7 linked regions of the Homo sapiens genome follow. The protein of the gene in region 5 purifies or fractionates together with the protein of the main gene of each other region. This does not show direct contact. Each region holds a gene or a part of one and is shown on either strand. Other genes may lie near its edges. The genes, in order: FIP1L1, DDX21, AP1S2, E2F2, DCAF13, NAT10 and MTF1.

Evidence for each region.
Region 1: the proteins of DCAF13 (region 5) and FIP1L1 purify together in Homo sapiens (affinity purification with mass spectrometry, with the first as the bait; one large-scale study listed by BioGRID). This does not show direct contact.
Region 2: the proteins of DCAF13 (region 5) and DDX21 purify together in Homo sapiens (affinity purification with mass spectrometry, with the first as the bait; one large-scale study listed by BioGRID). This does not show direct contact.
Region 3: the proteins of DCAF13 (region 5) and AP1S2 purify together in Homo sapiens (affinity purification with mass spectrometry, with the first as the bait; one large-scale study listed by BioGRID). This does not show direct contact.
Region 4: the proteins of DCAF13 (region 5) and E2F2 purify together in Homo sapiens (affinity purification with mass spectrometry, with the first as the bait; one large-scale study listed by BioGRID). This does not show direct contact.
Region 6: the proteins of DCAF13 (region 5) and NAT10 purify together in Homo sapiens (affinity purification with mass spectrometry, with the first as the bait; one large-scale study listed by BioGRID). This does not show direct contact.
Region 7: the proteins of DCAF13 (region 5) and MTF1 purify together in Homo sapiens (affinity purification with mass spectrometry, with the first as the bait; one large-scale study listed by BioGRID). This does not show direct contact.

Annotation. Positions count from the first base shown.
Region 1 is NC_000004.12:53,422,237-53,426,818, reverse strand, and holds part of FIP1L1 (pre-mRNA 3'-end-processing factor FIP1), read right to left. Parts: intron 948-4,582; coding exon 854-947; intron 1-853.
Region 2 is NC_000010.11:68,973,170-68,976,669, reverse strand, and holds part of DDX21 (nucleolar RNA helicase 2), read right to left. Parts: intron 3,126-3,500; coding exon 3,006-3,125; intron 2,001-3,005; coding exon 1,927-2,000; intron 1-1,926.
Region 3 is NC_000023.11:15,824,878-15,828,713, forward strand, and holds the end of AP1S2 (AP-1 complex subunit sigma-2), read right to left. Parts: intron 3,324-3,836; coding exon 3,315-3,323; intron 2,496-3,314; coding exon 2,448-2,495; 3' UTR 929-2,447; downstream 1-928. UniProt on the Homo sapiens protein: Subunit of clathrin-associated adaptor protein complex 1 that plays a role in protein sorting in the late-Golgi/trans-Golgi network (TGN) and/or endosomes.
Region 4 is NC_000001.11:23,510,106-23,514,687, reverse strand, and holds part of E2F2 (transcription factor E2F2), read left to right. Parts: intron 1-4,539; coding exon 4,540-4,582. UniProt on the Homo sapiens protein: Transcription activator that binds DNA cooperatively with DP proteins through the E2 recognition site, 5'-TTTC[CG]CGC-3' found in the promoter region of a number of genes whose products are involved in cell cycle regulation or in DNA replication.
Region 5 is NC_000008.11:103,417,747-103,422,328, forward strand, and holds part of DCAF13 (DDB1- and CUL4-associated factor 13), read left to right. Parts: intron 1-2,517; coding exon 2,518-2,717; intron 2,718-3,228; coding exon 3,229-3,336; intron 3,337-4,582. UniProt on the Homo sapiens protein: Part of the small subunit (SSU) processome, first precursor of the small eukaryotic ribosomal subunit.
Region 6 is NC_000011.10:34,108,108-34,112,689, forward strand, and holds part of NAT10 (RNA cytidine acetyltransferase), read left to right. Parts: intron 1-103; 5' UTR 104-118; coding exon 119-226; intron 227-634; coding exon 635-726; intron 727-3,944; coding exon 3,945-4,116; intron 4,117-4,582. UniProt on the Homo sapiens protein: RNA cytidine acetyltransferase that catalyzes the formation of N(4)-acetylcytidine (ac4C) modification on mRNAs, 18S rRNA and tRNAs.
Region 7 is NC_000001.11:37,849,029-37,853,610, reverse strand, and holds part of MTF1 (metal regulatory transcription factor 1), read left to right. Parts: intron 1-4,582. UniProt on the Homo sapiens protein: Zinc-dependent transcriptional regulator of cellular adaption to conditions of exposure to heavy metals. Binds to metal responsive elements (MRE) in promoters and activates the transcription of metallothionein genes like metallothionein-2/MT2A.

The sequences.
Region 1 (4,582 bases), on a different chromosome or scaffold from region 5:
TCTACGCCACCTCCAGAAATGTCACATTAAATAAATCATGGTATATTTATCCAATGAAGCTATCATGAAGATATTTTAATCATATTTTAAGAATATGAAAACATACAAATGATAATTTTAGATGGGGAAAAAAGTATACACAGAAATATAATTATAATAGTATCCCAATTTTGCTTAGTATCAAGAGATGTACCAGATGTGGTTATCTTTAGGTGGTAAAATCACTGGTGGTCTTTTATTTTTCATTCAGTAAACCTATATACAAGTTGAGTATTCCTAATCCAAAAATCTGAAATCTGAAATGCTCTAAAATCCGAAACATTTTGAGCATCAACATTTTATCACAAGTGGAAAATTCCACACCCAACCTCACATGTGACGGATCACAATCAAAACTCAGGCCCACTACACAGTTTACTCAGGGTTGCCAAAGGAAAAAAGATTATCATAAATTAACAAATCATTATAACAAATTAAATAACTTATTTATGAAACATAAATTTCATGTTTAGACTTGGGTCTCATCTCTAAGATTACATACGTATGAACATTTCAAAATCCAAACATTTCAAAATCTGATACACTTCTGGTCCCAAGCATTTCAGATAAGAGATACTCAACCTGTACTATGTTTCTACCAAGGAAAAGAAAGAAAACCCTATTAAAAAAAGATTCAGAGATTATAAATTCTAACTGGAAATGCCTTTATAATAAATGACTGGCTTCACATTTTAAATCTCTTTGTATCACCTAAAACACAGCATAGCACTATGACTATCTATTGAATAAATTAAATTATAATGTTGATATCATCCTTCAGTTAAAGAAAATTATTTATTTTAAAATACTAAACCTGTATGTTGCTGTTCTCATTTGCCCGTCGCCTGCCTTCTACTCGGCTGATAGTTATAGTCTGACCGATAACATCAATTGCCCCAGGTAATCTCCTGTAACATAAAAATTGAATCAATTCAGTTTCACCTAATTAGATGCTTAAAAAATAATAAAAGCAGTGAGAAATAAAAACAAAATGTGTTTGCAATAAATTTTAAAATAAAACCAGATCACAATACACATTGAAAAATATCCCTGAGTTTAAGCTCACTACTTTGCATTGTCATAAAAATTTTTATTAATAAACAAGCTAGAACCAACATACCCAACAATGATCATAATGTTAAGTTTTAAGTCTCTGTAGAGCTCTTCTACACTTACTAGTTTTAGTAGTCTCCAAATAAATTTATCTTTGTGAAATTAAATAAGACAGCAAATGCTAGACAAATGGAAATTTTGGGACCACTACAATTGTAACACATACTACAGCTCTATTACAGAAACTTTAAATATTCCCCAAAAAGGCCTGAAAATAATGCTCATTTTAACATACACAAGATATTTTCCTTGTGATATATTCCAAGTGTTAAAAAACATAAAAAAGGAACCAGTTTGCCATTTCTGATAACTTGCATTTAGATAGAAAAATTCAAATATTTAAATACCCGCCTCACCTCTACAATCTTTTTAAAGTTTATAAGGATATGGAAAAATAGTCTATCATAAAACAATGCTATAAATTTAAGAGAAAAACCTAGTAAGTTGTATTTTAAATAAAATAATGTTAAAAGCTATTATGCAGATAAAGGACTTTACAAAAGTATGCATGCCTAAGATGATATAGAAGTCACTTGGAGAAATAGGCAATGAAAAGTGGATGCAAATTAGATGAATTTCTCTTCATCTATATTTCAGTTCTGAACAATACTGCCTTTAAAACTTTATAGAAGCAAAACAATTAAAATACCATAGATCCTTCCACAGTCACTAGATTAGGCTCCTAAAATGACAAATAACAGCAGCTACCATAGGTTGGATGCCAAACCCATTATATCTAAACTTCACAAAAACTGAAAAATTACTGTATACTTGTTAGAGACAAGCCATGGTCCAAAGTGAAATCACTGACACAAGCATGAATTAAATAGCAAAACTAACTTTCAAACCTGAGTCTTTCTAATCCCAAAGACTATAGACCTCCCCTCCCCTTGAGCTAGGTTTCCTTCCAGCAAGACCTTTGAGGAATTTAAGGCTTTTCTGGAAATCATGAGTTAGTAAGAGTTTATCTCAAGTAGACCTTGAAACACTCCACAAATTATTTTGTGCTAACAAAGACAGCCCTATAAAAAGCACATCATGACATCTGAAATGTTTTCAAGTACATAGTCAGTTCCCACTTACCATCCCTTGCCCACTTAAGACTTCCCTTCTCTATAACTTTAGTACAATTTAAAAATGTTCAAGCCTTTCTAATTTTATGCCTGAGTCACTGACTTCCTAGATTTCCTCATGATCCCAAAGATCATGAATGATTTCATTGGAGGATTAACATATCCTCCAATACAGCTGGGGAAAGATCTTAATATTCACATGTTACAAAAATCCAAATATCTCTACAATAAAACAAATATTGCTTCCATTTCTTCCCTATAATTTAAATTGCAAAGCTATGCCTACCATGACTGCATTATCAAAGCACATGCCATCAGCCCTCTGATATACAAACATTTCATATTCCAACATCCTACTAAATACAGGTGTGCATTCTGAGGCTGTAATTTCCTCTCTGTTAATTGCTGCCCTCCATTGTCAAAATTTTTATTTTCGCTCTATTTCCTTTTCTACTATTTTCTCTTGCCAATCACTGGACTCTCTCCTTTGCATTTTTAAATTTATTCCCATCAAGAACAAATTCTACCAAATTTGTTTGGACTTGCAAGTCAGATAGCAAATTCTCCAAATTGTTAAAAGTGGTAAAAATTAGATCTAGATATAACTTTCCTGTTGAGGGGAAAATTTTCTATAGCCTGTCTTTTACCATTTATTTCTGAGGATCTCTAGTTTTCAAAAAGTCTGGGACACATGGAAGTATTCACCTCTTAAAATGTACCTTAAATATGGTCAGAAGTCTAATTAGTTTTTTTCAACTTTAAATTGATTGTTTTTAATCACTAAAGATTCAAAATGGCAAATACTATGTTTCTAAAAACATATAACTGAGAAATCAGCCTTAACAAGTATATATCCCTAAAGGGAGTTCAGAAAATTACAATTCTCCACATTTTCAAAACATCTCCTTGTGCCCGTATTTTTTAACCACATAAACTGATTTACTTTAATCATATAAATTAAGCTTACCGTTTTGTTCCAAAATGTTTTATGATAAGACACACAGTATGTACCACAGCAACAAAAAGCACATAATATCTAACACTGACAAATAATTTAAAAATCTAATATTATTCTGATGCCACATTATGGAAAAAAATATTGAACCATATTATTCCACGAAAGTTCTTAATGGACAGCTTTTTCTTTCATTGCTTAAGAAGATTTAATAGAGTTTCCCTATGAGGAAATCTACTGTAACTTAAGAGTTCCCCAAAGCGTAGGTTTGATTAGGCCAACAAACTTGTTCAGTAAGGTAGACAGCTAATGCTATTATCAAAATCCTCTTCTCCATATTGGACTCAACCATCTAGTAAAAAGCTAAGAAACTAACCACTCTGGGTGTCTGAGTTAATGTACAGTTTAAACAGGCAGTAAATGTTCCCAAGAGCCTCTACCTCCCCTCCTGGCACAGTAAATGAATATAAAAATATCTCTGAAGTTACAATGGAATTAAATTATCATATTTTGATGATTCTGATATCCCAGAAAGAATCTGAGGGCTCCCTGCAGAGATGCAACAGAAAGTTTAAGATGACAAATCAGGGCTAATAGAAGATAGACAAAAGGCCATAAATTGATCTCTGAAGGTCAGGCTCACGCATGTAATGCCAACACTTTGGGAGCCTGAGGCGGGAGGATTACTTAAGCCCAGGAATTCAAGACCAGCCTGGGCAACATGGCGAGACTTTGTGTCTACAAATAATTTAAAATATCAGCTAGGCATAGTAGCACATGCTTGTGGTCCCAGCTATTCAGAGGGCTTAGGTGAGAGGATTGCTTGAGTCCAGGAGATGAAGGATGCAGTAAACTGTGATTGTGCCACTGCACTCCAGACTGGGCAACAAAACAAGAGCCTGTCTCAAAAAAAAAATATATATATATACATATATATATATCTCAGCTGCTTTTTCTTGGAAGCCAAAGCAAAGGACATCATTAACAACAAATGTCTTTAATGTGCATTAAGATTAAAACAAAGCATTTGCTCTAAGATTGTTTTCCTGGTAATGACAGCTAGTATTTATGGAGCACCTACTATGCGCAAGGTAAGCACTGTTCTAAATACTTTATATATATTTAGTCTTCATGATAAACCCATAAGGTAGCAACTCTCATTATTGTCATTTTACAAATGAGAATAAACAGAAAAAGATTCTCCTCTGAGTCTAAGAGAAAATATGAGTACAATAGTTTTTAAACTTTATTGACTACAAAACACAGTAAGAAGTACACTTTACACAGCAATCCAGTACCCACAATACATTAAAAACTAAAAAAGATTCATGAAACAATACTTAAAAAAGGAAAAATGGTGACACTAAGATAAAATGTAATTTTATTAATATTTAAATATAGC
Region 2 (3,500 bases), on a different chromosome or scaffold from region 5:
AGGGAACCCTGTCTGTAGGACACTTAAAAAAACATGCCATGCTAAAATAAATTTGAAAAATGCAGTTAAAATACACTCTTCCAGGCTGGGTGTGGTGGCTCACGCCTATAATCCCAGCACTTTGGGAGGCCAAGGCGGGCGGATCATGAGGTCAGGAGATTGAGACCATCCTGGCTAACACGGTGAAACCCCGTCTCTACTAAAAATACAAAAAATTAGCTGGGCGTGGTGGCAGGTGCCTGTAGTCCCAGCTACTCGGAAGGCTGAGGCAGGAGAATGGCGTGAACCAGGGAGGCAGAGCTTGCAGTGAGATGAGATTGCACCACTCCACTCCAGCCTGGGCAACAGAGCAAGACTCTGTCTCAAAAAAAAAAAAAATACACTCATCCTTCCTTTCCTCCCTTCCCTGTCTTCTTTCTTCCTTCCTTCCCTCTTTCTTTTTTTTGAGATAGTCTCACTCTGCCACCCAGGGTGGAGTACATTAGCACAACCACAGCTCACTGCAGCCTCAACCTCCTGGGCTCATGCAATCCTCCCATCTCAGCCTCCAGAGTAGCTGGGACTACAGGCACTTGCTACCACATCTAATTTTTGTATTTTTGTATTTTTTTTTTTTTTTTGAGACAGAGTTTTGCTCTTGTTGTCCTAGCTGGGGTGCAATGGTGTGATCTCGGCCCACTGCAACCTCCACCTCTCGGGTTCAAGTGATTCTCCTGCCTCAGCCTCCCAAGTACCTGGGATTATAGGCGTGCGCAACCACGCCTGGCTATTTTTTTGTATTTTTAGTAGAAATGGGTTTTTTCCATGTTAGCCAGCTGGTCTTGAACTCCTGACCTCAGGTAATCCACCCGCCTTGGCCTCCCAAAGTGCTGGGATTACAGGTGTGAGCCACCGCACCCGGCCTAATTTTTGTATTTTTTATAGAGATGGAGTTTCACCGTGTTGCCCAGGCAATCCGCCTACCCCAGCCTCCCAAAGTGCTGGGATTACAGGCATGAGCCACCATGCCTGGCCCAAAACTCTTTCATTAACAAAACTTTCCTGAACTATTAATATGCTGATTGACATCCAGGATTTCCTTTGATCATGGACTCCCTGTGTCTGTTTTTTAAATAAGCATTTACAGTAATTGTGAAAACTACTATAAAAATGATGCCCAAACTCAGTGGTTCTTTAACAGAGAACATAGGTCACCATCAGGAGGCATCTGGAAAATGGTTTCTGGTTTTTATAATGCCAACCCTACTTACCCTGAGTATGTGGCACAGGGGAATCAGCCACGGATCCTAAGCAGCTAAATATCCTTCCATTTGCAGGACAATCCCATAAAAAATAATTCTCTTGCCTCCAATGCCAGCAGCACCTCCATTTGACAAACTGTTAATTAACCTAATCCTCACCATCTAGACATTTACTATTAACGAAGCAATCAACTTTCATCCTACCAGGGAAGGAACTGGATTAATGTAGATTTGGAATGTAATCTGTGGTCTAATCAGCCAGTGGGTGAGAAGCACCTATACTATACCTAAGATATTATCCCTTAAAATATCCTAGACAAAGCAAACTATTTTAATAGTGGTTTCCTCTGGTAAACAGGATAGGACAGGAATGAGTAGAAACGAGGGTATCCACTTTGTGAAATTCTACTTCAGCACGGTCTGGTTTTTTTTTGATAAACAGGTTATCAGTTAAAAAGAATAGGCTGTGCATGCTGGCTCACACCTGTAATCTTAGCACTTTGGGAGGCTGAGCTGGGAGGACTGCTTGAGACCAGGAGTTGAGACCAGCCTGGGCAACATAGTGAGACCCTGTCTCAAAAATTTTAAAAAAAAAATTTTTTTAAGTCAAATCTTATTACTGTACAAAGACATGCAGTATTTGAACCAACACTAAAACAGACCATAGCAGTGGTAGGGAACATACCTGATGGCATCTTTGCTGGAAGCTTTTATTATTTCTGTTGCAGAAGGAACACCTATTCGTTTGAACTTAATTCCCTACAGGAAAATGAACCACAGTTTAATGTACAGTGGCCATCAATTGTTTCCAATAAGATAAGCAGTCCCCTAATTTTTTAATATAGGCCAAATGTATGTATTACATTAAAAAATGAACTTTTAATTTTAGACTTACAGAAAAGCTACAAAGACAGTACAGAGAGCTCCAGGTTTCTGCTATTATTAACATCTTACACTGTTAATGTATATTTGTTTCAACTAAGAAACCAACATGGCTAAACTATTAATCAAACCCCAGACTTTATTCCATGTCTGTCTTTCCTTCTTTCCTTGTTTTTCATGACTTTGACAGTTTTAAGGAGTGCTGGTCAACAGTTTTGTAGAATGTCCCTCAGTTTGAGGTTGTCTTGTGTTTTCCTCATGCTCAGGGTTACATATTTGGGGGAGGAATACCCGAAGTGAATGCTCGCCTTACCACCTCTTATCAGGGGCACATGGCTATGTGCCTATCACTAATGATGTGACCCACGATCAACTGGCCCAGGTAGTGTTTGTTCATCTCTCCTCGGTAAAGTCCTCACTCCCCACCTTACTCTATTCTTTGAAAGCAAGTCCCTAAGTGCAGTCCACTCAAGAGGAAGGAGACGAGTGAAGCTCCTGAAGGGGCAAGAATCTACATACACTATTCCAATTCTCCTGGAGGAAAAATTAGTCTCTTCTCCCCTTTATCCTTTTGACATACCCTCATTCATTTGATTTTCAAGCAATTCCTACAGCCCCTCAATCTTAATTATCTCTGGTTCATATTTATCATTGTCTGAAAACTTCCTTTCAAACATATGAAAACAAAATCACTGTTTTCAAATGCAAAGTTACTTCAGAATGGGCCTTTTATCACAGGACAACATATGTACCTAACAATAAGCTTTCAGTCATTGCCACACACTAGAAATAAAAATATTTTAAAGTGGATAAAAATTGAAGAAACCAAAGACTGACTTTAGAACTCAACATTTGCTTAATGAAAGGTAAGAATAGTTTTACCGCTTTTTGCTCCACTTGTACTAACTGATATTCTTCCTTGTGCTGATAAAAGCAGATGCACACCCCCGTCCTTCCAGCTCTGCCTGTCCGCCCGGATCGATGAATGTAGGACTCTACATCCTATTGAAGTAAAATACATGAGTAACACTAAACCAAAAAAGAGAGACAAACACCTGAGTAGCCTATGCAGGTCAGTGAACACTAGCAATTGTGGTTATAAACCTGGGGACATGAGGGAGAAGGTCCCTTAGCACTTCAATTTAAAGACCTCTGGCAATTTTTAAAGCTTCTAGAACAATGGTCCCTGTCCTGCAGGCAAATTTACAAAGAGCATTGTCTAAATAGTGCTTGTCCATTAGAGGCATATATGTAATTCCAATTTTCAGTCTTCCAGTAGACAGACTGAAAAGATTTCTTTAAGAAGCTTAATGTATTTTAACTCAATATATCTAGTCTTTTTTTTTTCTTTTGAGACAGAGTCTCACTCTGTCACTC
Region 3 (3,836 bases), on a different chromosome or scaffold from region 5:
AAACGTTAACGAAATTTAAGTAGGAAGAAAGTTTCCTCAAAATTGGAATTTCTGCATGATATCTGTTAAGGATGAGAGTTCTTTCATGTGTAGTCAATAAAAGAAATCATGCATGTGGCCCAGGATAATTTCACTTTAAAAAGTTGGATTTGTTCCAGACTCTAAATGCCTGCTTCACCCTGAAAATGATTGACCTAGAACTATCTACTGATTTCAGTAACGCCGAGTAATTATCATTAAATTCAGTATTTTTTAATACTTTTCTAAATACAGTCAAGATATATGCAATTAAATGTGGTCTGCAAAGCTGAAATCTTAATAAATCATGGAGGCTAAGAAAGAAAACCACCATCTTGAGCTCAGGACAACTGAGATATTGATGACTTTCCCCTCAAATGTTAATAGGCAGGGTAGAAGGGCAGGAAGTTTTTAAACCACTGACTGGTTCATTATCCTGATAAATGTCCATCTTGAACTTAAATTTATTAGTTTTTTTTAATATATATTGCCTGATTACTATTTATGTTTCAAAAATTCCAACTATACATTGCTAGCAGAAACCCACAGGCCTGTTTTCAGTGAATAGCTAGCTGCATGTTGGAGGCTTTTTAAACCTATAAACGTCTTTTTTTCCAGTAGACTAGCAACTTAATTTGATGGTAGTTCCTGCCTCCTTCTTAAATAGCCCAGTTTTAGAATGTAACATTTCCTATCTGTAGTAATAGGAGGTCCCTTAACTATCATGATTACCATAGATTTGATTTGTTGCATAGGTTAGGTAGTACAGTCTGCAAGTATTAGTCCCTTTCTGTTGCATGTGCTAGCACCTTCAGTTCACAAGGGGGTAAGAGGAATCCAGTTGATTTGAAATACCTTTTGAGTAACAGTCTAAGTTGTTCATTCAGAAAGAGTAGAAAAGTCAACTGCATCAAGGTTTTAAAAGCAGCATTTATTGATTGAAAATAAATGTGTAGATAGGCTCTCAGTATGGAATCCATGTTATTTTTTAATGAAGTACATGAAGACTCCTTAGATCTTCCACCATGTATCTTGTGTGTGCTTATAACAACCACCATATTCAAATGGAGGGGAATTTTCAACATTTTACTGAAAAAAAAATGAGAAATTCTTCCTTCAGCAGCTCTGCATAGTTTGACAAACTTTTGGAAAGAGATAAAAACACACTCCAGTGTTTGTACGTTGAACGTTTATTACAACTAATTGGCGATGTGATAAGACAGTGCTCACGTGGCCTGAATGTTGGTCACAATCACAACAAAGCTTAATCCAGCCCAGCATATATAAGTGAAAATATAAACCATGAAGACATGTTTAGATATGTATAAGTACTTAGAAAAGTGACGCTGAACAATTACATAGCTTTAAAAAATATAGAGCCATCTAATGCCATTTTACCTCATTCAACTCTTTTTTGTAAGAAATGTGTCTTTTTAAATTTTTATAAGACTTCTGTTAACTAGGCAGTGCCATGGAAAGAAAGGAAGCTGCTGTAAAGTGTGCAGCACTTCTAAGTGGAGGGAAGCAAAATAAATTTAGCTTTAACAAGTACCCCAGAGGGAACATTCGTGCTTTAAACAATGACTTTACACATAATACTGTGAAGAGAGCAACACGTTTTTTGTAAGATACTGTTATGAAGAATTCCTGGCAAATTACCATTCTCACTTTATTTTGGGGCATCAAAAACAACTAAGTATTTGATTATGACCACAAAAAATTCATCTCAGGAGTCAAATGTGCCTTGGCCTTAAAAATTATGTGCTTACTATTGTGAAACAATCCTGTTTCTCATCCCAGATTCAGAATGCCTAAGAAATAATTTTTAGTGTAAGAAGTATCACTCCAATTTAGTCATTAAAAATAATCTGTAGTCCTTTAAAAAAAAAAAAAAAAGGTATGTAATTTCCAATACAAGTCTTTGGAGTAAATTTGCTTTTTAAAGTTTCAACAAAGTTTCCATTCATTTGATATGTGACATGTCAATTCCCTTTTTTTTTTTTTTTACATATGCTGAAATGCTGCACTAGTCTTTGGTTTCATAAAACCAGGTTTCACATTATAATTTAAGAGTTTCCTTTGTCAAATACAGTAATTAATAAATGTATACTGCCTGATTTTACATGTATATGATGTGCCATTTTCATATGTGCACATAATCAGATTAAGAGAAACTGACCTTTAAACTTTAAAATATCCAGAAAAGGTATCTCTTTCTGCACCATTCTAATTCATATTTAAGTCCCTTATCACTTAATTAACTAAAGTTCCCTTTTAAAAAAAAATTGTGTAGGCATGAATGAAGCGGCTTAGCAAAACAGTAATACTGACAAGACATCATCTTACACCATGAGCTAACATGGACATGAAGGGAGTGACCATCTACAGTGTGTGAAATGCCACAAGAAGTCATCAACAAGGGAGGAGAGTTATGTCAGTCCAATTTCTTCAAGAACACTACGTGGGGTTTCAGCTTCCTGTGGAGGGAAAATGTGAGACTCTGGTAAGCAGATCCAGGGAGTCTTGAGAATGTGAAACATTGACATGGAAGAACATGCTTGTTTTAGAGAATCAAGAAAGCAATTTCGTGTCACAGTAGCATTCTAGTTGACAGCCATTGGTTATTTAGGGTTTTGTGCCCTCAAAATTGGAGACCACAAAAGGACGTTTTCAGCATTCATTAAGTACCTGCTAATTACCTACCAATGTGCTAGATGCCGTTGCTGTCATGCAAAAAGCAGTCAAGCCCAGTGCAAACCTGCTGGCAATTTATGAAATCACTGCTACTCAATTATATATATGAAAGATAAGTTATCTTAGTGGTAAAATTCAAAACCTCTTCCCTCCGAGTTCCCACAGTTCTTCGCCTACTGTTGTGTTCCATGCTTTTTGTCACATGCATTTATAGAAATGTCTTCCTCTTGGAGTTTTTAGTTAACTGTGTCCACAGCGGCAAGTCTTCAGAAACAGCTATCTTCCCAGACCTCCCCAGTGCAACCAATGGCATCACTAGAGGCCACATATGCAAAGAATGCCATGGGCCAAAGGCATTTTTATTCTATGTAGCAACCAGCACTGGTTTTTAAGTGTCAAAGGAGGTCAAAACAAAGTAAGCATATCCAGGAAAAAATTATTTAATAATTTTCCAAAGTGGCTGATTTTGCAAATCACAAAATAAAGGACCAAGGAGGCCAACTTTCAGGTATTACTAGCAACGAATTTTGTAATTAAAAGGCAACACTATATTTTAATGATGGAAAATAATATAAATTTTTGGCATCCAGTAATAAACTTACTTTCGCATCCTAATCATGGTACAGCACAAAGCAAGGAGAAGAGAAATTATATTAAACCATAAATCTTTAGAATATTAATTGCATGTAAAGCACTTCATGGTGTAATCTTAAGTAAATTACTTAAACTCTATGGTCTGTTTCCTTATTTGGAAAACATGGATAATAGTACTTACCTTCATATGTTGAGATTAAGTGAATTAAGGCTCTGCCTAATTTATAGAAAGTGCTTCAAAAATGTTAGGTGATATAGTTACACAATTGAAATCGAAATGATTTAGCATTTATTATTAAACGCAAGTACTATACACCAATTCTACTTATAAAGCTCATATGATGACCTTTTAGTATGTCTGCATAGTAATAAAAATGGGTAAAAATCAGCTTTAGCGAAAAAAGGTATTTTTTTAAAAAGAGTCTAACCTATGAAGTATTCTTGCCCCCTCAAATTGAACCTCAATCTAGTCAGGTTACAGATCTAAATAGAAATGAGGGATATAAGAACAGCTAAACATTGCCATATGA
Region 4 (4,582 bases), on a different chromosome or scaffold from region 5:
TTTTTTTTTTTTTTGTATTTTTAGTAGAGACAGGGTTTCCCCATGTTGGCCAGCCTGGTCTTGAACCCTTGACCTCAGGTGATCCACCTGCCTTGGCTTCCCAAAGTGCTGGGATTACAGGCTCCAGCTCTTTATAGAAGTTTGCTGTCCCCAACTAACTCAACCCTTCTTTTAACACATGAATGAACACAGGCCCAGAGAGGGCAAGTGGCTTCCCTAAGGTCACACAGCAAGTTGATGGCAGAGCTGGGACCAGAGCCCAGCCTCCCAACTCTTCTCTAATGATCTCTCCTGTGTCTGTCAGGCCTCATCAGGGACCAGAGCTTCTCCCTGTGCTAGCCATCTGTCCCTTGGGACACCTCCCCAGTGCCTATCTCCCATCCCAGACCTCTGCCCCACCCTCTGGTCCATCCTCCTCCTGCTGTGCCTCCTCACTCAAGTGTCAGCATGCGCATAGCCCTCCGAAGCTGGAACCACCTTCGCTTCAGTTGTCCTCTGAGACCTTGGGTGGAGGTGGCAGATCCCAAAGCATAAACAAGGGTGTGAAGTTGTTTTTTTTTTTTTAAGACAGAGTCTCACTCTATCACCCAGGCTGGAGTGCAGTGGCACAATCTTGGCTCACTGCAACCTCCGCCTCCCAAGTTCAAGCAATTCTCCTGCCTCAGCCTCCCGAGTAGCTAGGAGTACAGGTACATGCCACCATGCCCGGCTAATTTTTGTATTTTCAGTAGAGACAGGGTTTCACCATGTTGGCCAGGCTGGTCTCGAACTCCTGATCTCAGGTGATCCACCCACCTCAGCTTCCCAAAGTGCTGGGATTACAGGTGTGAGCCACCGAGCCCAGCCGGGTGTGAAGTTTTTACCTGAGTTTTACAAATCAAGATCCTGAAGCCCAGAGAGGAGCAGAGGCTTACACAGCAGTCTGGTGGGGCCAGCTCTCATGTCATGGCTGTCCCCACGACCCTTGTCACATGGCCTCATAGTATTATCCCTGCTGAAGGGAGGAGGAGGAAGTTTTCCTGGTCTTGGCTCACTGCAACCTCCGCCTCCCAGGTTCAAGGGATTCTCCTGCACAGACACACACACACACACACACACACACACACACACACACACACACACACATGTTCCGTGCTGTGTTCTGAAATAGTATCATTTTGAGGTCTGAGTGCCAGAAGCCATGTAAGAGAGGAAGCCACTACAGTCTTGGGACCTGGGTCCTGGCCCTGGTTCTGCATTACCAGGGGAAGTGTTCTCTGCAGCCTCAGTTTCCCTCATCTGTAATGGAAGGGGTTTCAACAACATCATCTCTGACATTTCTCCAGGCTCTGACATTCTGAGATACACCTAAATGTAGCTGATGGCACAGGATTTGAAATTGGGAGACCTGTGTTCAAGCCTGTATCTCACTTCTTAGTGACTTGGTGACTGTGAGTGAATCACTTTAACCCCCCAAAGCCCCAGTTCCCACATCTCTCAAATGGGGACACTTGAAATTTCCTCATGAATATTGAATGGGTTATAGAAGATGACATGGCATAAATGTGATTTAAAAAAAAAAAAAAAAAACTTATGTGGCCAGCCGCGGTGGCACACACCTGTAATCCAGCACTTGGAGAGGCCGAGGGAGGTGGATCACTTGAGGCCAGAAGTTCCAGACCAGCCTGGCCAACACGATGAAACCCCGTCTCTACTACAAATACAAAAATTAGCCGGAGGTGGTGGTGCATGCCTATAATCCCAGTTACTCAGGAGGCTGAGGCACAATAGTCACTTGAACCAGGAAAGCAGACGTTGCAGTGAGCTGAGATTACACCACTGCACTCCAGCCTGACCGACAGAGTGGGACTCTGTCTCAAAAAAAAAAAAAAGCTTGTGTGAAGAGCATCTACTGAGCTGGGCCTGGTGCTGTTTTAGAGACAGAAAAGCAGTAAGAGCCATTCAGAGTGTGGTGGAGAGACACATATTACAAAAGGCGATTCTATTTCTGGACGTGATCAACAGCAGGAGACAGCAAGGTCTGACCTATAATAGAGATTTTCACATGTGTTTTATCAGTTACTGCTTCTAATACTCATCCCTGTTTTTCCACATGAGGAAACAGAGTTCTGGGGTTCCATGGCTGGTGAGAGGAGGCGCTAGAGTCTGAGCCCACATGCTCCCCGCTCCCAAGCCAGGCCTCTGACTGTAACATCAGCAGCGTGCCAAACAAACCTTAGATTTTTTTTTTTAATTAATATACATTTAATGGACTTCTTTGGGCCCTAGTTTTCTCATCTGTAAATAGGGGTAACAGCATGGACTCCCTCAGGGCCATTTGAGTGTGCAAGGAGGCTGAACCACGCCTCGCCTCAAGGGCAGTGCCACCACCTCCCCCATTAGCCTTGGTAAATGGGAGCAATTTTTAACAGGAGCAAGGGCAGCATGCAGACCCGACAAACCAGTGCTTATTTATTTATTTGTTTGTTTATTTATTTATTTTTATTTTGAGACACGAGTCTCGCTCTTGTTGCCCAGGCTGGAGTGCAGTGGCGTGATCTTGCCTCACTACAACCTCCACCTCCTGGGTTCCAATGATTCTCCTTCCTCAGCCTCCCTATTAACTGGGATTACAGATGCCTGCCACCATACCCAGCGAATTTCTGTATTTTTAGTAGAGACGGTGTTTCACCATGTTGGCCAGGCTGGTCTCGAACTCCTGACCTCAGGTGATCTGCCTGCCTCGCCCTCCCAAAGTGCTGGTATTATAGGCATGAGCCACCGCACCAGGCCAAACCAGTGCTTCATATGCACTTACCATGCGGTCCTCTGAGCAACCCTTTGAGGTAGGTAGTGCTATGCTGCCCCATGCAGAGGGGAGAAAATGGATGCTCTAAAACGTGAAGTCCAGAGCAAGACTCCATCTCAAAATAAATTAAATAAATAAATAAAATGTGAAATCACATGCCTATGGGTGCACCACCAGTCTCAACAGGCAGCCTAGCATCCCAGCGCAGTTGTATCTTCAGAATAATACTTGGCTGGGGCTTAAGGAGTGACTGCAATGTGGGGGATTCTGAGCATCAGGATATATGTGGCAGGCAATTTCCAGTGCTTCATTGCATGTCCCTGTATGGGAAATCACCGTCTTAACATCTAAGTGGAAATGAGCAGGTTGGGTGTGGTGGCTCATGTCTGTAATCCCAGCACTTTGGGAGGCTGAGGCAGGAGGATTGCTCGAGCCTGGGAGTTCGAGACCAGCCTGGGCAACAGAGTGAGACCCTGTCTCTACAAAAAAGTTTAAAAATTGGATGGGCATGGTGGCACGCACCAGTGGTCCCAGCTACTCAGGAGGCTGAGGCGAGAGGATTGCTTGAGCCCAGAAGGTTGAGGCTGCAGTGAGCCGTGTTCACCCTACTGCACTCTGTACTCTAGCTTGGGCAAGACCCTGTTTCAAAAAAAAAAAAAGAAGGCGGCGAGAAAGAAATGAGCATAGAGTGCTGGAGAATGGCTACTGAAAGGTCAAATAAGATGAAGCCAGAGAAATGACCATTGGGTTTAGCAGCATGGATGTCACTGGCTCAGGGACATGGTGGGGAGAGACCCCAGACTGGAGTGAGTTGAAGAGAGAATAGTAATAGGGAAGTGGAGACAAGCTGAGGCTACTCTGGAGAAAGTTTACTGTGCAAAGGAGCAGAAAAATGGGCCAGTAATTGGAGAGGGTGATGAGGTCAGGTATAGTTGTGTGTGGTGGAGAGTAGAGGCAACATAACAAAAATTTACCATCATAACTATTTTTAAATGTACAGTTCAGTGGTAATTAATACATTCATAATGTTGTGTAACCATCACCATTCATCTCCATAACTCCTTTCACCTTGTAAAACTGAAACTCTGTACCTATTCCCCATTCCCCTCTCTGCCCAGCCCCTGACAACCACCCTTCTACTCTCTGTCCCTGCGATTTTGACTAAGTATCTAATGTAAGTGGAATCACACAGTATTTGTTTTTTTGTGATTGGCTTATTTCACATAGTTTAATGTCCTCAGGGTTCATCTATGTTGTAGCATGTGTCAGAATTTCTTTCCTTTTTGGCCGGGCACAGTGGCTCAGGCCTGTAATCCCAACACTTTGGAAGGCCGATCACTTGAGGTCAGGAGTTCGAGACCAGCCTGGCCAACATGGTGAAACCCCATCTCTACTAAAAATACACAAATTAGCTGGGTGTGGTGGTGCATGCCTGTAGTCCAGCTACTCGGGAGGCTCAGGTGGGAGAATCGCTTGAACCTGGGAGGCAGAGGTTGCAGTGAACCAAGATCACAACACTGCACTCTAGCCTGGGTGATAGAGTGAGACCCGGTCTCAAAAAAATAAAAAATACATGAAAAGTTGTAGGGTTGGGTGTAGACTCTGGAAGGTGGATTTTGAGAGCACGACAGTCCACCCAGGCTAAGGAGAGAGAAGAAGGGTGCAGTCATCCAGAGAACCGGAAGTCTGTCCTCGCGTGCTGAGGAGTTGGATGCTAGGGCCAGGCGTAACCTTTGTCTGTTTGTCTCCAGTGCCAGCACCAGCGCCAACCCCCCAGCAGGCCCCACCGCCTCC
Region 5 (4,582 bases):
AGAAAGTTTGAAGACTACTATATAGGGAGCCTTTGGAAGTTTTAAGCATGGGAGTGACATGTAAAAAGCTGTTTTAAGATGACATCTGATAGGCTGGGCGCAGTGGCTCACGCCTGTAATCCCAGCACTTTGGGAGGCCGAGGCGGGAAGATCACGAGGTCAGGAGATCGAGACTATCCTGGCTAACATGGTGAAACCCCATCTCTACTAAAAATACAAAAAAATAAATAAATTAGCCGGGCATGGTGGCGGGTGCCTGTAGTCCCAGCTACTCGGGAGGCTGAGGCAGGAGAATGGTGTGAACCCGGGAGGTGGAGCTTGCAGTGAGCCGAGATTGCGCCACTGCACTCCAGCCTGGGCAACAGAGCAAGACTCCGTCTCAAAAAAAAAAGAAAAAAAAAGACATCTGATAATAGTGTAAATTGCCGCCAAATCAAGTAGGGATGATATTAAAGTAGCCCAAGTATAAGATAATGAAGACCCAAACTGCCTGGGAATGCAGTGGCTCACATTCATAAACCCAACACTTTGGGCGGCAAAGGTGGGAGGATCTCTTGAGCCCAGGAGTTCGAGAGTAGCCTGGGCATCATAAGGAGACCCCCGTCTCTACAAAAAATTTAAAGATTAATGGGGCATGGTGGTGCATGCCTCAGGTCCAAGCTACTTGGGAGGCTGAGGTGAGAGGCTAAGGTGGGAGGATCACTTAAGCCCTGGAGGTTGAGGCTGCAGTAGGCTATAGTCATATCACTGCATTCCAGCTTGGGTGACAGAATGATACCGCATCTCAAAACAAAAACAAAAACAAAACACAAAAAACTAGAAATAGAGAGTTGAAAGATGAGTAAGTGTTGCAAAGAGATGATGAGTAGGACTTTGAGTTTTGGTAGTAGGGAATATGGAAGATGGAATACATAAGAATGACCTAGGCTAGAGCTTTGTTGAATGTTAGATATAACACCATTACCAGGGAGTCAGAAAGAAACAGCAGGATGAAGTCATGGGGTAAGAAGATGCATTTACTTTTTACTCACTGAGTTTTTTTAGACATACGAGCTTAAAATTACTTTCTAAGCATAATTATATATATATATATATATATATATATATATATATATATATATTTTTTTTTTTTTTTTTTTTTTTTTTTTTTTTTTTGAGATGAAGTCACACTCTGTCAGCCAGGCTGGAGTGCAGTGGCGCGATCTCGGCTCACTGCAACCTCCACCTCCCAGGTTCAAGTGATTCTTTTGCCTCAGCCTCCTGAGTAGCTGGGACTGCAGGCACATACCACCCCCACCGCTGGCTAACTTTTTGTATTTTTAGTAGATGGGATTTCACTGTGGTAGCCAGGATGGTCTCGATCTCCTGACCTCGTGATCCGTCCGTCCCGGCCCCCCAAAGTGCTGGGATTACAGGCGTGAGCCACCACGCCCGGCCCTAAGCGTGATTATTAACCAAGACAATGTGTTTAGCAGCGTATCAGGACAGTTAAAACATAGATTCTGGAGCCATACTGCCTTGGTTTGAATCCTGGCTCCACCGTGTCGTATTCGAGTTACTTAACCTCTTTATGCCTCAGTTTTCCCATCAATAAAGTGTGAGATAGTAATAGAACTTAACACATAGGATGCTGTGGAGATTAAACGGTTAAGGTTTTTGGAACAGCGCCTGGCACTTGAACTCTTATGTGAGTCTTTTTTAAGTAAGTAAACAAACATAGAAAGTGCTCAGTAAATGATAGCTATATAATATCATCATAATCACAACTTCGTGTGTCTATCAGCACAGTATTTAGCACCAGAGATTAATAATGTTCCCTGCCCTACAGGAAGCTTAGAGTTCTGTTGAGCAAACATCTTGCACATATTTTGTCCCAGAAACTGTGCTAGGCATAAGGAAGTACAAATGAAAAGTGTATTGGAAGCCCTGACAGTGAACACTTACAACCCAGTTGAAGAGGGTACTAGGACATATAAAAGGGAGGCCGGGCACGGTGGCTCATGCCTGTAATCCCAGCACTTTGGGAGGCTGAGGCGTGTGGATCACGAGGTCACGAGATCGAGACCAGCCTGACCAATATGGTGAAACCCCATCTCTACTAAAAATAGAAAAATTAGCTGGGCGTGGTGGCATGCGCCTGTAATCCCAGCTACTCGGGTGGCTGAGGCAGGAGAATTGCTTGAACCTGAGAAGCGGAGGTTGCAGTGAGCCGAGATTGCGCCACTGCACTCCAGCCTGGTGACGGAGCAAGACTCCGTCTCAAAAAAAAAAAAAAAAGGAAATGCTGCATGTATATATACCTAGGGTCTAATTGTTTTGCAAGATGTATGCATCCCATGATTTTCCAGTAATTTCAGAAAGATTTCTGAACAACAGGTCTTCTACTTTTGTATTCTTAGTGTTAGGCATAGAACAATGTCACTAACTAAATGCTTATTGAATAACAGAGTGATTAGCTGAGGAAGACTGCAGGAAATATTAAGTGTGAATTATTAAGAAGGATCATTCTTATTTCAGTTCCAAGAAACTATGATCCTGCTTTACATCCTTTTGAGGTCCCACGAGAATATATAAGAGCTTTAAATGCTACCAAACTGGAACGAGTATTTGCAAAACCATTCCTTGCTTCGCTGGATGGTCACCGTGATGGAGTCAATTGCTTGGCAAAGCATCCAGAGAAGCTGGCTACTGTCCTTTCTGGGGCGTGTGATGGAGAGGCAAGTGTCAATCTAGATGATATTTTCAACTAAAAGTAGTTATATTACAAATGTTTTCCCTTTAGTTTTTAGTTACTGTAGGTTTTACTTTATTGGATTTCAATTTACTTCTCAAGACTAAATTTCGTTAGGAATACTGTTTAGTATTTTCTTCTTTAAACCTAAGAAATTATAAATGCAGTAGTTTAAGGATCAATTTGACAGTAAATTAAATAATCATGTTTATAATTAAAGTATTTAAGTATGAGTTTTTTCACAGATGTTGTCAACACCTAATTTCCTACTATGGCAAGTGAAAAAGTTTTGTAACACTTTAGAATCAACAGAGTATTTGTCAGGTTGTATTTTTTGCTCATCAGTATACTTATCCATATGCATTGCATTGTTTTAATCCAAAGGATTTTGGTTTTAGCTGCCCAGTAGAGTGATTCGTAGCCTTGTCAGTGTTGAATTTATCCTGAACATTTTACATTTATAGTTCACTGAAATTTCCTGGTATGCCTTATCATAGGTTAGAATTTGGAATCTAACTCAGCGGAATTGTATCCGTACAATACAAGCACATGAAGGCTTTGTACGAGGAATATGTACTCGCTTTTGTGGGACTTCTTTTTTCACTGTAAGTATAATACCATTAAGTCATTAAATTTGATCAACATAGGTAAGAATAATCTAATTGAATACATTTTTTTTCAAGTTCATTTATTTGTTCCTAGGCCCTTTTGGAGTTTCACAATGCAAAATAGCTTATTAAACCTTGAAAATTACTAGTTTTCTTTATATAATTCAGCCTTCCCCATAACTTAACATGATTAAACTAATATTCAATTTACCACAAAAGTGGAATTAATGAGAGGTAAGTCTAGAAAGAGTTTGGCTTACTCTGGAGGATTTTTGATGCTAAGATGAGTAATTTGTACTTTTGTTAGTCAGATAATAAGGAATCATCGAAGTTTTGTGCCTGTGTGTGGCAAGATATCCGGAACGTAAAATTTACTCTCTGTTTTTAAATATACAGTTTGGTGGCATCCAGTACATTCACATCACTGTGCAACCATCACCACCATCTGTCTTCAGAACTTTTTCATCATCCCCAGCTGAAACTATAGTCATTAAACAATAACTCCTCTGTCCCCTCAGTCCCCAACCCCTGGTAACTACTATTTTACTTTTTGCCTCTGTGATTTTGACTATTCTGGGTACCTCATATAAATAGAAGCATATTTTAAAGAATTATACCATTTTGTGTATGTGGAATAAGGCTTTTGGGTCTGGCTTATTTTACTTAACATAATTGTCTTCAAGGTTTATCCATGTTGTAGTACATGTCAGAATTTCCTTTCTTTTTATGGCTAAATAACATTCCATTGTATGTGTCACATTTTGTTTATCCGTTCATTCATCAATGAGCATTTGATTTGTTTCCACCTTTTGGCTATTGTGAATAGTGTTGCCGTGACCATTGGTGTACAAATACCAATTCAAGTTCATTGAAAGTCTTTTTAAACAAGGGGAACGACAAAATCTGAGCTGTGCTTTGAGTTAAGTAATTTGACAGCAGTTAGTGATCAGTTTGAAGGCCATTTTAATAGTTTGGCAGGCAATAATAAGAGGCTACCTTATTATGGAGACTGAAAACTAGAAATCAGTGGTTGATACTTTGGAGGATTGACAGGTTTGACAACTGAGAGGTGCCTGGGAAGAGGTTGGTTCCTGTTGCTGAGGAGTACCAGCAAGTTTTGAAGGGTGGCAATGGGAAGGATATGATGTGACAAACTGGACTGCTAATGGGCTGTTCGAGTGAAGATGTCTGTCATACCTTTACAGATGCAGGTCTGGAGCTCAGGAGGGAGGTCAGAGCTGAA
Region 6 (4,582 bases), on a different chromosome or scaffold from region 5:
TATAGATATGCCTAGCACAGTCCCAGGCCCCACAAAAGGCAGCCAGCTAATGTTCCTTAGACAATCTAGTGCGCATGGCCAGTTGTATTTCTTTCTCTTTTAGTAATAATTTTTCACCATGCATCGGAAAAAGGTGGATAACCGAATCCGGATTCTCATTGAGAATGGAGTAGCTGAGCGGCAAAGATCTCTCTTTGTTGTAGTTGGGGATCGAGGAAAAGATCAGGTATGGCCTGGTAAATGCTTCCTGAATTACTTTTTATCTTGTCCAAAGAATCAGCATGTTTAAGCACTCTGCTGTTTCAGGACATAATGGCATTAAGATCTCTTTGGCTGGTAAGATGCCTAGTGGGAACCTTTCTTTATTTCCTGGAAGTGGTGAATTCTCTGTATTTAGATTGATTCGCAGACAAGCTAATACCTTTTGAAGCCTGGGGTGGTGGGTTGACCACAAAGTGAACTGTATGTGACCTGGCTTCTAGTCCAAACCTGGTCATTGCTCGCCTTAGAACCTTGGGCACTTCCCTTCCCTGGCCCTCAGTTTAGTTTCCACATCCGTCAAATGAGGTCTTAAGCCTGGCGGTCTCTAAAGTCTCTTTTGTGCCTGAAATTCTGTGACTTTTTTGTTTGGCAGGTGGTAATACTTCATCACATGTTATCCAAAGCAACTGTGAAGGCTCGGCCTTCAGTGCTGTGGTGTTATAAGAAAGAGCTGGGGTTTAGCAGGTAAGCTGGGCTCTTCATGTGTTTTATCCAACTTACAATTCCTGCTCATTAGTTAAATGCCAGGAAATGATTCCTTCACATATTTTTTAAGGGTCTTTAGTGGAGGTGCTATCTCTGAGGACAAATGGAGCTGATATCCTTTCTTCATTCCTGAAAATAAGTTTCAAATCATTTTCATGCTTTTTAAGTCACCAATCCAATGCCTTGCCTTCTGCATATGGTTTTCCTTCCTGCTTTTCTAGGCTGATTAAGCCCATCTCATTGCAAGTTCCTTCAAACTGTCTTTCCTACCTCAAATTTATTCCACTTTTCACTCTCTCTCTTTTTCTCCCCTTCTTTCATGGAGGGGGTATATGCCTCATCCCATGTCCAAGGAAAACCCCTTTATGTACCCTGTGTCTCCTCCCTCACCTCTTTCAGGACCTGTATTGTCTTTCCTCTGCTGGCCACCCAATACCCTTTGGAAACTTTCTCCTTCCTGTAAACATGCTCAGATTTTTCTATTATCAAAAGCTGATTACTTACATACCCAGATTTCTCTCTCAGGTTAGCATTTCCCCCGATTTTTATTGCCATATACCTTAAAACAGAAATCTTTTGCACTTAGTAGCCACTTTTGCAGTCTGGTTTCTGCTTCTATAATTGTGATCAAATTGTGCAGTTAGACATCCCCAGCAGCTTGATGCCTAATGCGTCAACTTTTCTCTCTCTTTCTCCTCCTTTTCAGAGCTCTGCCTCTTCTTCTACCAGTTCACTGCTGTATTTGACAGTTGGCTATTTGAAGCTGTGGTAGTCAAGACTTTTAGTCATAGATAACATACTTTCAACACAAATACAATTTGGCACAAAGGGATTTCATTGAGGTATATGGGATATTTCCTGGAATCCAAGGGGATAAGATTTCAGCTCTGCTCACGGGTGATCTAGAGTCACAGTACTAATGCTCCCAGCTCAGTTTGTCATCTCAGTGTATCTGCTCTATGCAGACCAACTTTCTCACTGCAGACCAGCTTTCTGTTTTCTGTTGTCCCCCTAGCAGAAACAACACTTGCGTTTTCCTTGTTTCAGGCCCAGCCATGTGGAAATCAGACTTTTTCCCAAAATTCTGGTGGAAAAATGCCCACACCTGGCCAGAGGAGGGTGGGGTTGGTCATAGCATAATACAAAGTTGGAAGTTCTACCTACAACTTTGTGTTTGGAGAAGTTTGGATGGGGTGGGTAGTGCTGTTCCTTGGCAGATAACCACCATGGCATCACCTAAGAAATAGTCTCCTTTTTTGGCTTCAGTGTCTTTACTCAGACCACCTTCCGGAGCTCTTCTCTTTCTCTGGATCTCGTCTCCTTACTCTAAACCTAGCTGGCTTGTGCGATTCTGTCCTTGAGCCTCTTCTAATTTCCAAATGTGCTCATCTCCGATCTGACTCTGAAAGCCTGTCTCCAGCTCTGGTTGCTTTATGCTGTGACTAACCTCCCTCCTTTTCTTTGCTCATGCTGTCTCCTCTGCTTGGAATGCCACTTCCACCTCCCCGGTATCACCTATTGAAATCCTGTTTCTCAGGGCCTGCCTCCTCCGTGAAACTTTTCCTGAGCCCCCCAGTCATACCTGGTGGTTCCTCTACCTTCCTCTGCACTTGTCCTTCTCCTATAATGTTTGCCAATGGATGCTTTTGCTTTAGGGTAAAGTCACTTACATACTGTGACTTACGTTCATTTTTTTTTCTTTCCCTTTTTTTTTTTTTTTTTTTTTTTTTACTTTCAGGTGATAAGCTTATTTAGTTAGGAGCCCTCTTCTATTTATCTTTGTATTTTCATACTTTTAACTGATTTAGCATGTTTATCATAGGTACTCAGTATACATTGAGTTGGATGTGTTGTTAACAGGCTCTAAAATTATTTTAATTTAAATTAGTACCAGAGGCTAAACTTGCCCCTGTCCTGTGGTCTTAAAGTGAAGGGATTCTGCCTAAAGGAAACCAGACAATCATAAGAGCCTTACTGATGAAATGTGAAAAGTGCAGAAAACCCAAAGATGAAAATAAAAAACATCTCACTGTCTAGGCATTGTCAGCATCTAGGTGTATCTTACAGGGATGTAGTTTTGAACCATAATTGGTATTCTGTTGTATATACTCTCATATTTAGAGAGGTAGGCATTTTTAATACAGATTGAGAATAAGGCCTGTTGTCTATCCCAGAATTTTAAGTTTTTAGGGCTTCTGGTTTTCACTATTTTTCATTTGGCAAATATGAGATGGGTGTGGAATTAGGCAGTTCAAAGTCTTCTGGGCAGATTTGCCTTTTGAATTTAAACCACCTGGCTTCACTTCTAAAAATCTACTTTTGTACCTCTTATAGCTCTTCTGCCCCACCCCTGTCTTAGTCTGGCAGAGCATTGTGTTCAAGCTAATGCCTGTTTGTAAGTCACGGGCTTAAGGCCTGAGCCAGAAGGGACAGTGGAGACAAACTCACCCACTGCCTTGGTTCATAGATGAGGAAGTGGAGGCCCACAGGAGGAAAGGCCTTTGTTCTAGCTATTAAGTTAGAGAACTATGGTAAAATTTTGATCAGCTGTAATCCTCCATTCTAGAACATTCTAATTCTCTCTTTTGGTAAAGGAAAGGTAAGTAGCAACTGGATATGCAGGGTTTTTAAGACCAAAAAAATTCAGGAATTCCTTAGAGATGTCCAGATTCCATTCTGATCCCTGTGTCCTGTATCATTATTGTCTTATGTAAGACCTGCCCTTGAAGACATAATCCCACATTCTCGGGGAGGAAGTCCTCTAGGAAGGATGAATAAAGTAACGTGCCATCACCTTGTCTTTCCTAGGATCTCTGGGGAACAGCACAGTGTAGTTGAAGCATTGGCTTATGACTGAGATAATGAGGCCACTCAGGTTTGGTTTCAAGCTCTGGCTTTGGCCAAATGTGAGGGTTAGCTACCCTATTACCCATCTTTTAAAGCAAAGTATTTGCTCAAGGTCACAGGGCAAAATAGCAGAGTTCACACATAGACTTATCACTTACTCCAAGCCCTTAAGCACTCTAATGCCTCTCATGCCTCTCCACTGCCCTCCACCTGAAGTGGGCCTCACACTTTCAAGTTCCCTACTAGCTCTGAAAGTCTAAGTGGGTGATCACTGAGCCTTTCCCCTGGTTCCAGCTCTTTAGCTGCTCTGGTTAACTGGCTCTCATGGGATTGGGGGTGTGTGATTGCAGTCACCGGAAGAAAAGAATGCGACAGCTGCAGAAGAAAATAAAGAATGGAACACTGAACATAAAGCAGGACGACCCCTTTGAACTCTTCATAGCAGCCACAAACATTCGCTACTGCTACTACAACGAGACCCACAAGATCCTGGGCAATACCTTCGGCATGTGTGTGCTGCAGGTGGGTGGCTTCCTCTAACCTGTGATTGAAGTCAGAGTCTTGAGGGTTGCTTGGGCTGCCTGGCTTTCCACTGGGAACAGATGTACAGTAAGGAGAGGAGAGTCCCATGTTCCCTATGCCCAAGCATTATTAGTGGAAGTCCTGGCCACTTTCCAAAGTACACTCGGTCACCTACCCCATATAAAAAGAGAATTTTAAATCAGCACTTGTCTAGAGACACCAGAACTGAAGTGATGAGTTATTATAACGGGTTCTAACTAGCTAAAGCTGATAAAGCAAATGCCAGAGACTTTGAGTGCCTCTAGGACCCTAGGTCCTTATTGGCATTCACCAAAGACTTTTTTTGTCCAGTGAGCAATGGGACTTGTTTTCCAACCGGATATAGACCAATGCACTTAAATGTCCTGTCCAGAGTGCCTGAGTGGCATACCCACCATGAAGGCCCCTCTCCCCTTTTCTAGCCCTT
Region 7 (4,582 bases), on a different chromosome or scaffold from region 5:
CAGGCCATTTTCAGGGAATAGCCAGTTGTCCTGTTACAACAGAGTCAGCACACTTTTTTCTGCTTAGGGCTAAATAGTAAATATTCTGGGCTTTGCAGGCTATAAGGTCTCTGTTGGAGCTACTCCATTCTTCCATTGTAGCACAAAAGCAGCCATAGACAATACATAAAGAATGAACATGGCCAAGTTCTGATAAGACTTTACAAAAACAGGCAGTGGGGTGGATTTGGTTCACTGGCTGTAGTGTGCTGACCCTTAGACTAGAACATAGTAGTAGAAGGAGATAAGGATGGAAAGATAGCAAAGATCCAAACATGGAAGGCAGTGGTAACCTTCTATGGGTTTTGAACTGTACTCTCCTAGAAATGGTGGGAAACCATTGGAGGTGTCTAAGCCAAGGCTAGAGTGGTTAGATAGAGAATGTGGTTAGAGTAGCATTTTAGAAGGATTGGTCTGGCAGCAGAGGTAGCTTGGAGGCAGAGGAAAACTGGAGACTTCTTGCCTAGTTAGGAGACAGTTGTAGTTTATGTTTGGGGTTTCATTTAAATCTGAAGAAAGGATAGTGGCCTTGTTCATGGGAAGAATCAAGGACTTTTGTAGAAGTACGAGAGAACTTCGTACGTGTTATTGGAGTTTGATGAATGAGCCATGAGTTGGGCATGATTCAAAGGTTTTGAATAGGCCAGGCACAGTGGCTCATGCCTGTAATCCCAGCACTTTCGGAGGCAGAGGCAGGTGGATCAGTTGAGGTCTGGAGCTCTAGACCAGCCTGGCCAACATGGTGAAACCCTGTCTCTACTAAAAATACAAAAATTAGCCGGTTGTGGTGGTGCATGCCTGTAGTCCCAGCCACTTGGGAGGCTGAGGCAGGAGAATCACTTGAACCCAGAGGGCGGAGGGTGCAGTGAGCCATGATTGTGCCACTGCATTCCAGCCTGGGCAACAAAATGAGAATCTGGTTGGAAAAAAAAAAAAGGTTTTGAATCATGTTGATTGAAAGGATTCATCCATTTTCCCAAATTTGTTGAGTTTCTGCTGTGTCTTAGCACAGCTTTTTGATGGAGCTCAAATCTAGGTGAAGAGTTAAGCAGTTAAGAGTCCGTTGTGGTAGATATTTTAACAGAGGTGTATTCGAAGTGCTGTGTGCATGCTGAGGAGAAAGTGGCTAACTCTGCTCTCCGCACCCTCCAAATGGTGATCCCATTCATAGGAATCAAGAAAGATGGGAAAAGGAAAAAGTTTTGATGGGGTAATTAAAGAGTTTGGTAGGAGTGTATTGAATGTATAGTCCTTGGAGAAAAGTAACATGAACAAATGGAAAGCTCATTGGAAACGTGTATCTGAGGTCAAAGAAATGGTTTGGAGTTAGAATAGTAGTAGAAAGGGGCCTTCAAACTGTGGGTAGTTTACTTAAGGGAGAAGTAAGAGTTGGCCTGAGAATTTAAGGGTTGGAAAGAGAAAGAGGAACCCAAGAAGATCACAGTAGTCAAAGAGATGGGTCGACTGCAGTGTTGTGGAAGCTGAAGGAAGAGAGTGTCAACAAATGAGAATATTCCTGTGTGACCCTGCAGAGGGATTGAGGAGCCCCGAAGAAGCCTTTAGTTGTGCTGGTTGTGCAGTTGTTCACATATCATGAGAAGACTTGCAGCAGAGCACTGGGGCTGAAGCCAGGTTTTGAGTGATGAAGAAGTGAGTGAGTGATGAGGAAACAGGAGGCAGGAAATGTCAAGTTGGCTTTTTTTTTTTTTTTTAAATAAGTTTGGTAGTTAGAGGAAGAAGAGTGATGAGGCAGTAGTAGCTAGCTCAAGGAGATTGAATCATTTTTGTTTAGCATAGGTAATTTGGACATAGTTTAGGACCTAAACTTTAGGCCATCCTCCATCAGTGATTACTGTGTGAAAGTGTTTCATGAGCGAATGTTCGGGAAACATTAAGTTAAACCAAGACAGAAATTTGTTGATTAGGACTTCTCAGAGCCTTTGATGTGCCAACAGCTAAGAAGGAAGAAAACACAGAATTTTTCAAATGCTTTAAACTTGAGAAACCATTTTTCAGATCTAATTTCCAGGGATCAGTGTTTTGTGGAACACATTTTGGGAAATGCTGATCTAGGCAGAAGAGGAGGAGATGGTACAGAGGGAATGATTATGCAATCAGTGAAAAGCTGTCACTTTTCCACTTTGTACTATTCAAATTGGTTTATTCTATTTGCAAGTCTGGTTTGCCATTCTTGTCTTCAGATCATTGATAATCATATTGAATAGCACAGGGTCAAGGATATTATGAGCACTTTGTTCAGTTTGCTGGGGATTTAGCTCACTCCACTTTCCTCTCACCCACATTTTTCCATGCTATCCATGAGACCTTTGTGGAAGATGCTATATTCTTGAAATCAGTAGGTTTGGGGTTGGGTGGAGATTGAAGGAGAAGTAGCAGTAGCTTTAGTCTTCGAAAATCTTGCTTAATGACCAGACATTCAGGAGGCTTGCCTTCCTGAAGCACTGTCTTAGCTTAGCTTTTGTTTTGGCAGTGATTTTATTTTGGCATTAAAATCCACTTATTTGGCCTGAAGAGGCTGATGTTTATGACTACTCGATAACAGACTTCATGATCCTTTAGCTCTTCCTTACTCCTTTTCCTTTCGTTTTTTTTCAGCTTGGTTTTTGGTTTTTTCTTTTCCCTCCATGCACAGGTGTTACTCTTGAGAAATCAAATCATTTGATAACTAGTTGGTCTTCTTGGCTTCCCAAGCAGCTTATTTTCTGAGTCACATTTTAGCCTGAATTTCCTGTTTACTCCTGGTTTTTTCATTGTTTCATATAGTGTGGAGTTGGCTTACCTATTACTTCATTTTCTTTTCTTCATGCTTGTCTTGCGCAAAAAATAAACCAACCAGAACCTTGCCACAGATAGTCTTTTCCTACCACAAGGCCGCTGGTCATTCTGACTCGAATTTCACGTATCTTATTCTCATACTTGTTATTTCATTACTGTCTCCCTACTGATTTGGTAGCTTTGAGATCTCTCTCTCTCTCTCTCTCTCTTTCTCTCTCCCTTTTTTTTCTCTTTCTCTCTCTCATTCCCTTCCTCCCTCCCTTCCTTCCTTCTTTTCCCTTTCTGTCTTTCTTCTTTCCTTTCTCTCTTGAAACAGGGTCTCACTGTGTCACACAGGTTGGAGTGATTACAGTGGTGGGATCGTAGCTCACTGTAACCTCAAACTCCTGGGCTCAAGCAATCCTCCTGCCTCGACCTCCCAAAGTGCTGGGATTATAGGCATGAGCCATGGCACTTGGCCAGCTTGCAAAATTTCTAATCAAAATATTTTCATTCTGCCTAAAAACAAAAGCTTTTTTTTTTTTTTTTTTTTTTTGGTTGAGACAGGGTTCCATTCTGTAGCCAGGCTGGAGTACAGTGGCACGATCATGGCTCACTGCAGCCTTAACCTCCCAGGCTCAAGCCGTCCTGCCACCTCAGCCTCCACAGTAGCTGGGACCACAGGCATGTGCTACTGTGCCGGCTACTTTTTGGTGGTTGTTTTGGTAGAGAGGGGTCTCACTATGGGCTGGTTCCAAAATCCTGGGCTCACGCAATCCTTCCACCTTGGCCTCCCAAAGTATTGTGATTACCGGCATGAGCCACCATGTCTGGCCCTTTAAGGCCTTTCTACTCCAAGTCTCGAAGCAGCTGCGTCTTGTTGTTTGTTTGTTTGTTTACGTATTTTATTTTATTTTTTTAAGACACTGGGTCTTGCTATGTTTGCCCAGGCCATCATCATAGCTCACTGTAACCTGGAACTTCTGGCCTCAACCAATTCTCCCTCCTTAGCCTCCTGAGCTGCTGGGATTAAAGGCATGAGCTACCACACCTGGCAACTGTGTTTTCTTTAGTTGGTTTGTGCAGTCCATTCTTGAATCTGTGCCCTTCCATAGAACCTGCCAGGACGGTCTAGTTACCTGTTCATCTACCTCTGTCTGCACTACATTGGTGACGTGATGTATCCTCCATGGCTAACTGACCTTGCCAGTTTTCTATAGAGTAGTTGGCCAAGGAGCATGAAAAAACCCTAGGAATCGTATGCAAAATTTATTCTACATGATGCACCAAAGTATTCCAGCACATTGATTAGGAAAGGTATCATTTTCTACCAACAAGCACAGTTACAGCAATTTTTTTTTTTTTTTAATTGAGGTGAAGGCTTGCTCTGTTGCCCAGGCTGGAGTACAGTGGCACGATCTTGGCTCACTGCAACCTCCGCCTCCAGGGTTCAAGAGATTCTCCTGTCTCAGCCTCCCGAGTAGCCAGGATTACAGGCATGTGCCACTAGGCCTGGCTAAATTTTGTATTTTTAGTAGAGATGGGGTTTCACCATATTGGTCAGGCTGGTCTTGAACTCCTGACCTCAGGTGATCCACCCGCCTTGGCCTCCCACAGTGCTGGGATTACAGGTGTGAGCTGCTGCGCCTGGCCTACAGCAATGTTTTTAGGCTGCTTGGTATATTGCTTCTAGACACACCATGAACTAATTGCATGGCCAGTGGCATTCCAAGAGGAGAGTTATTTCTTTTAGTGTGACAGATTTTAA